Linked DNA regions of Homo sapiens: region 1 is reported to be linked to region 2. Evidence: microRNA targets listed by miRTarBase, many of them from high-throughput screens and not tested one by one. Region 2 holds a microRNA gene; the other region holds the end of a gene's coding sequence.

Region 1 (3,093 bases), not on the chromosome of region 2:
GTATTTTTTTAGTAGAGACGGGGTTTCACTGTGTTAGCCAGGATGGTCTTGATCTCCTGACCTCGAGATCCGCCTGCCTTGGCCTCCCAAAGTGCTGGGATTACAGGCGTGAGCCACCACGCCCAGCCACCACCAAGTGTCTTTGGGGCCTTGGGGGCCATAATATCCCTGAGAACCACAGTTGTCCAAATCCTCCTTGGAACGTAGGTTTTCATCCTTGGGCCTGGGGCTATGGTAGAAAGACCTATTGTTAAAAAGACACTAAACGAGGCAGATGTCAGGGCATGTGAGATCCCTGCTTCTGCCAGCACGCTTTGCTGTATGCAGCCCTATTTTGGTGGTCTTTGCTGATACCCTAACAGCGTGCCTTTTGGGACTCCCCAATACTGTGGCACTGCACCTTTTTTCCTGTGAAATACACCCAGTGTTTCTCTCTTGCAGCTGAGAGCAATGATGGCTACCACATCATCCTGAAATGTGGACTCTGAGCAGCAGTGGACCTCATACCTGTCTCCAGCTCCCAGCCCTGTGGATCCCCGTGGATGTAGACATTGCCCCACTGTAAGCTGTGGCCTCACCAGGCAAGCTGAGGCCAGGAGGGACCCTGCCCAGTCTGTGAAAGCTACAGAGCACCAACCAGCAGAAGCCTGTGGACACCAAGTACGGTGTACAGAAAGCCAGTGGCTCCTTTCTCCCTTCCTCTTGGCCTCCAGATTTTGAATGGTTCCTTGTTCTTTTCTATTGGTCCAACCCTGACGTTCTAAAAGGGCAAACAGTGGAGACGTCTGCTCTGAAATCCCTCATCCCTTAGTTGGAAGCTGATTGGGTATCTTGGTGCTGCCTGTATTGGTCCCTTCTGACCACTCTCCTGCCTCCAGAGAAAGCTCTGCTTCACCCTGGAAGCTGGTACCTTTACCTCCTCCTCTGGGAGTTGGCTGCATGGCCAGCACTGCCGACTTGATGGGAGCAGTTTGCCCTCATTCTCCTGTTTCAGGTTTGCTTCCCTTCTCAGTGACCCTGGTGAGCATCCGCCTTTCCTGTTCTTGGATGAATTGATGGGAGTGGGGCTATTCTGTGCCTTCTACCTCTTTCTTCTCTACGTTGTTTCTAAGGATCTGCTGCTGCGGAACCCAAAGATGTGCTCCTGTCTCTGCACTGGCGCATTGGCATGGTAGATGCCACAATGTATGTGCACGGCCTTTCTCAGAGACATTAGTTCTGAGGCCCTTTGTGGGGAGGTTAGGGGGATGGTAATAGAAAAAGACTATTTTATTTCCTGGCAATCACGGGTAAGGAGGATTAGGAATGAGTATTCCATTCCTAGGTGTCATCAGATGACCTTGACCACCACAATACCAGGCCCTCTTGGATGGACTTATAGAAAGTTAGAGAAGACCTTGTTGAACCGCTGCTAAACTTGCCACAGGAGCGATGTGTTTTCTCTGAGTGCCCCTCACTTACATGTTTATCTTTGTTTGTAGAGGCTATGTTTAGGATATTTTGCCTGCATCAGAATGGGTGCATCATCTTTCTTAATGGCCTAACTATCGGGAAATTTGAGTGTCAGTAACTGTGGTAGACTCAGAAATTCGTCTTTGTCTTGCCTCTGGTTCCTGGGATCCAGTGATCTCTACTGGCCCAGGGCTTCAGCTCTTGGTTAATTTAGGTTCATGGGGAACCCTCTGACCACCTGAATGGGATGTCATAGCTTCTAAATGGAGCTTCTGTGGAATGAAGTGCTAGACTGAAGGACTACCAGAATAAAACAGGGTCTACAATGGGGAGAACTTGTTTTATAGATGAGGAAACCAAGGCTCAGAGGGGCAAAGTCACCTGCATGGTAGCACATAGTGATAGGGTAGCGATATAAATTTATCATATAAACCAGGACATCTCGGAATAAAAGGGGCTCTGTTAGTCATTATGTTGGGTAATAGCCGTGGCATTCCTACAGAACAGAGTGAGGACAGGCTCCTGATTCCTCTTCCTTCTTTAGAGGAGAAGCGGGGAGTGGGTTAACTAACAGCTTTATTGAGATGTCATTCACATGCCATTCAGTTTACCCATTGCTAGTGTCCAATTGTATTCACAGAACCACCATCAATTCACAGAATTACAGTCAACGTTGGTACATTTTCATCACCCCCAGTAAAACCCCGTACCCTTGGTCTGTCACTCCTGCTTTCCTAACTCCTGCAGTCCAAGGCAGCCATGAATCTACTTTCTATGTAAGATTAACCTACTCTGGACATTTCATATATCTGGAATCATGTGATATCTCTTTTGTGACTGGCTTCTTCCACTGAATGTTTTCTAGGGCCGTCCAAGTTGAGGATGTATCAGTACTTCATTCTTTTGTATTGCTGAATAATACTTCATTGTATAGATAGACCACATTTGTTTATTGATTCATCAGTTGATGGACATTTGTGTGTTTTTACTTTTTGGCTACTCTGAATGATGCTGCTATGAACATATTTCTACAAGATTTTGTGTGGACATATGTTTTCATTTCTTTTAGCAATATACATAGGAGTGGAATTGCTAGGTCTTACAGTAACTCCGTGTTTTAACTTTTTGAGAAACTGCCAGACTGTTTTCTATAGCAGCTGTACCATTTTACATTCCCACCAGCAATGTATCCAGGTTTCAATTTGTCTACATCCTCATCAACACTTGCTATTATCTGTCTTTTTGCTTTTAGCATCCTAATGAGTATGAAATGCTATCTTGTGGTTTTGATTTGCATTCCCCTGATGGCAACTGATGCTGAGTGTCTTTTCCTGTGCTTACGGGCCATGCGTATTTCTTTGGAGAAAGGTCTATCCAGGTCCTTTGCCTATTTTTAATTGAGTTGTCTTTTTTTTTTTAAGTTTTCTGTTTTCCTAACCACTAGACTACCAGGGATGAGCCTTCTTTTTATTATTGAGTTGGGTGAGCTATTTGTATATTCTAGACGCCAGTCTTTTATCAGGTATATGACTGGTAAAAATGTTCTCCCCTTCTGTGGATTGTTTTCAGTTTCTTGTTGGTGTCCTTTGAGACACAAAACTTTTTAACTTTGATGATTTCCAAGATACGTATTTTTTTTCT
Region 2 (3,093 bases):
AGAACACCAGGACCCCAGGGTCCAGCTGCTCCCTCCTGCCCTTTCAGCCAGGCTGTAGCCTCACCGTGGCATCTGGCGAAAGGTAGCGTTCAGGGATGGGCAAGTTATTGTTGGGGACCCGGTAGGGGACCCATTTCCTCTCCTCAGCTCCCCAGAGCACAGAGTTGAGATCCGGGAAATCTTCAAAGATGTCAAAGCCCTCCTCAGTCCACAGTCCCAGCGCCCAGTTCCCAAACTCTGAGCCCTGTGGGGAGCCAGCAGGGTAGGCATCGGCTACCCACACCCCCACAACCCCCAGCTGCCTGGACCCTGGCCAGCCTCACCCTTCAACCCACCATCTGCGCTGCCACCTCGTAGCCATCAGGGTTCAGTGAGGGCACCAGGTGGATGCGTGTGTCCTGCACCAGGCTGCGCACACGTGGGTTCCCATCGCGGTACTCTCGGCACAGGTACTGCATGAGCAGCAGCAACAGCTCTCGGCCCAGCACCTCGTTGCCATGGATCCCAGCAGTGTAGCGGAACTCGGGCTCCCCTGCAAGGGCGGGAGCCTCAGTGAGCACTCAGTCTCCCGAGGCCCAGGGCAGCTGAGGAAGGACCCAGACCCACCTCATACCCGAGGGTCTGGGGGACAGCTGGGGCTCCTAGGGCCCTGTAAGACAAGCCAGAATCCCCAGAGAGGCTCCGGAACAGGCGGGAGGCAGTGAGCTCTGCACATCAGCAGCAGAGGCCAGCTGCTGGCCCCCACAGACCCTCACCCAGTTCATGCTCCCCAGGGTTGTCTGAGATCTCCATGGCATAGATCTTGAGGCCTCGTGAGCTCTTGCCCAGGCTGTAAGTGCGGGTGATGGTGGGGCACTCCTCGTTCACCACCTTCATGAGCTGGGGCAGAGGGGGAGGACGTGGAATCAATCATGCAATCCGTCCCCCGCTGACCATGCCCCTTCCACTTCCAGGGCCTGCTCTATGGCGAGGGACGGGCATGACCCCTTCACGCAGCCCCCAGGTACTGGCCTCCTTCCTAAGGTGAGGGACAGCCAGCATCCCTGGAACCAGTAGGGACTGGGCCCAGTGACAGAAGCACCAGGCACACACTCCCGTCAGCCACAGACAGGTCCCACCCCCAGCCCCAGGATATATGCTCCCAACCTGGCGCATGTCCTTGTAGCTGTGGTGCCGGAAATCCAGGTCATCGGTGGCCACCACCTCATTCTGTGCGTAGTAGCTGTAGACAGCTGCAAGGGAGGCGGGGTTGTCTTTAGCTGGGTGCCGGCTGGCCCACCCTAGCACCCCACCTCCACTCAGAGCCCCTGCCAGCCCTCCACACTCACGGGCCACAGAGCACCCCAGCACCTCCAGGCGCATGCACAGGCTGCCATTCCAGGTGAGTGGGTAGATGCGGATGAAACGAGCCACCACCGGCTCTGGGAGCTCACTCAGCACGGGTGTGTCCTTGTCCACGTTCCCATGAAAGGTCTGGGGAGAGGCAGGCCTCAGAGCAGTACTGCCAGCCCCTCTGAGAGCCCACCCCTCGCCCAGACAATGGGAGCAGAGCCAAGAGCCTGGGCATGGTGCCCACCATTTCCTCATAGCCGTTGGTGTACATCACCCATGTCTGGCTGTCATTGCTGAAGCCCACGAAGAAGGTGGTCACAAAATCGTCACTGTGGAGTGGACAGTGGTCAGAGCAAGGGTCTTCCCCCTCCCAGGCCCTCAGGTGGCCTGAGCCTCCCTCTTCCGAGCCCCAAGAATTTAAGAGCTAGCAGGGTGGTGCTGCACGGCCCAGGTGTTGAGCCTGGGTCCTATGCCCGTCACATAGCCATGGGCAGGTGATCTGTCCCTAAACTCATGTGCTATCAGGACACAGGGGCTGACTGACCAGGCTGAGGAGTGGGGATGGGCAGGGTGAGTCCCTCACTGATCTTTTTGGCCTTCTTTGGCTGGGCCAAAGAAGGGCCCACTGGAATCTCCTTAATGGGACACAGAGCCATGCCTATGTAGCCACTCCCCTCTGCCAACTATCCATGAGCCTGGCCACGCACTGGATGCTGGAGTCTCTGCCCTGGGTGATGACGCCTGTGAACCGGGTAGTCCTCCTGGTGTCCACCTCTATCCACTGGGTCCTGGCATCGTCCTCGGCACACCACGCACCATCATAGTAGTCGTCCTCAGTGGCACCGGTCTGTCCAGGGGGCAGGGGAGGCTGAGCATGGGCGGAGGAGTCCCTTATCCCAGTTGGGAGATGGGCCCATCCCAATGCCCACCTGCATGTTGAGCCGGCCGCGCTGTGCCCCCAGGCCGTGGCGCAGCATGGAGGAGGCTCGGATCTGGTTGTCCTCAATACGGTGTGACTCCATCCCAATGGGGGGACACTCTGAGGACGCGTACCCCAGAATGGTGGCTCACTAGCTCCATCCTTCCCTCCACCAAACCCAGAACCAAGGAGCCCAGAGCCCACTCCCGGCACATCGGGGGCACAGTCAGAGGGCAGCTCTGGTCAGCTGGTGGCTCCCTGGTGCCCTGCACCAGCCCACCTGGAATCGACTCAAAGCCAGGCCAGGAGCTGTTTCCAATCCCAGCCTGTGCTTCCCCTCCCTGGGCCTCAGCTGCCCCATCTGGAGAACGGGCTGACCATGCCCAGCTCTCAGGGGACACACGTGAAATCACAGGTAGAGCTCCCCCAGGGCGCAGCCACAGATGTCATCCAGATGGGGACCGTCTGCACAATGGCCCTGCAGGGATACCTGTGAAGGTACCTGAGGTCCTCACTCCCCACCAAGGCCCCAGGTCCTCCCCCTACCACGCCCAGCCACTAGGGGCCCTGGGGAGCTGCCACCCTCCTGAAGCAGGCCAGCCTGGGGTCCAGGGCTGGGGCAGCCAAGCGAGGCTATCCTGGGCTCCCGGGGCCCCTCCCTTCTGGGTCCCAAGAATCTGAGTAGGAAAGGGTTCCGGGGACCTGGGTCCTGTTTGTGACATTGGGCCAGTCACTTGTCCCAGCACCCCCATCCTGTGGCCCCCACCCTCACCCCCTTGTGCCCCCCACTTACTGACTTTCTCCGTAGGCGTCCACTCCTCCTCCAACTCCTCGCCCTTTCG

What was found. The annotated mature microRNA hsa-miR-4649-3p reads UCUGAGGCCUGCCUCUCCCCA and lies in region 2 at 1,475-1,495, opposite strand. An mRNA with a match to its seed (bases 2 to 7 or 8) in the 3' UTR can be bound and repressed. Matches are read on the target gene's strand: a 7mer-m8 pairs with bases 2 to 8, a 7mer-A1 pairs with bases 2 to 7 and ends in A, and an 8mer does both.
Region 1: miRTarBase lists TFCP2L1 as a target of hsa-miR-4649-3p. The part of its 3' UTR that is shown has no 7-base or 8-base seed match.

The regions. Positions count from the first base shown.
Region 1 is chr2:121,221,736-121,224,828 of GRCh38, reverse strand. TFCP2L1 (transcription factor CP2 like 1) reads left to right here. Exons shown (of 15, transcript NM_014553.3): 15 at 442-3,093. The coding sequence ends at 488. Among named protein-coding and RNA genes, the nearest start is that of TFCP2L1, 62 kb to the left of the region's middle.
Region 2 is chr7:44,109,293-44,112,385 of GRCh38, reverse strand. MIR4649 (microRNA 4649) reads right to left here and starts at 1,537; the gene lies at 1,474-1,537. AEBP1 (AE binding protein 1) reads right to left here. Exons shown (of 21, transcript NM_001129.5): 9 at 3,045-3,093; 10 at 2,262-2,371; 11 at 2,040-2,179; 12 at 1,577-1,661; 13 at 1,329-1,473; 14 at 1,147-1,232; 15 at 756-879; 16 at 336-532; 17 at 65-244.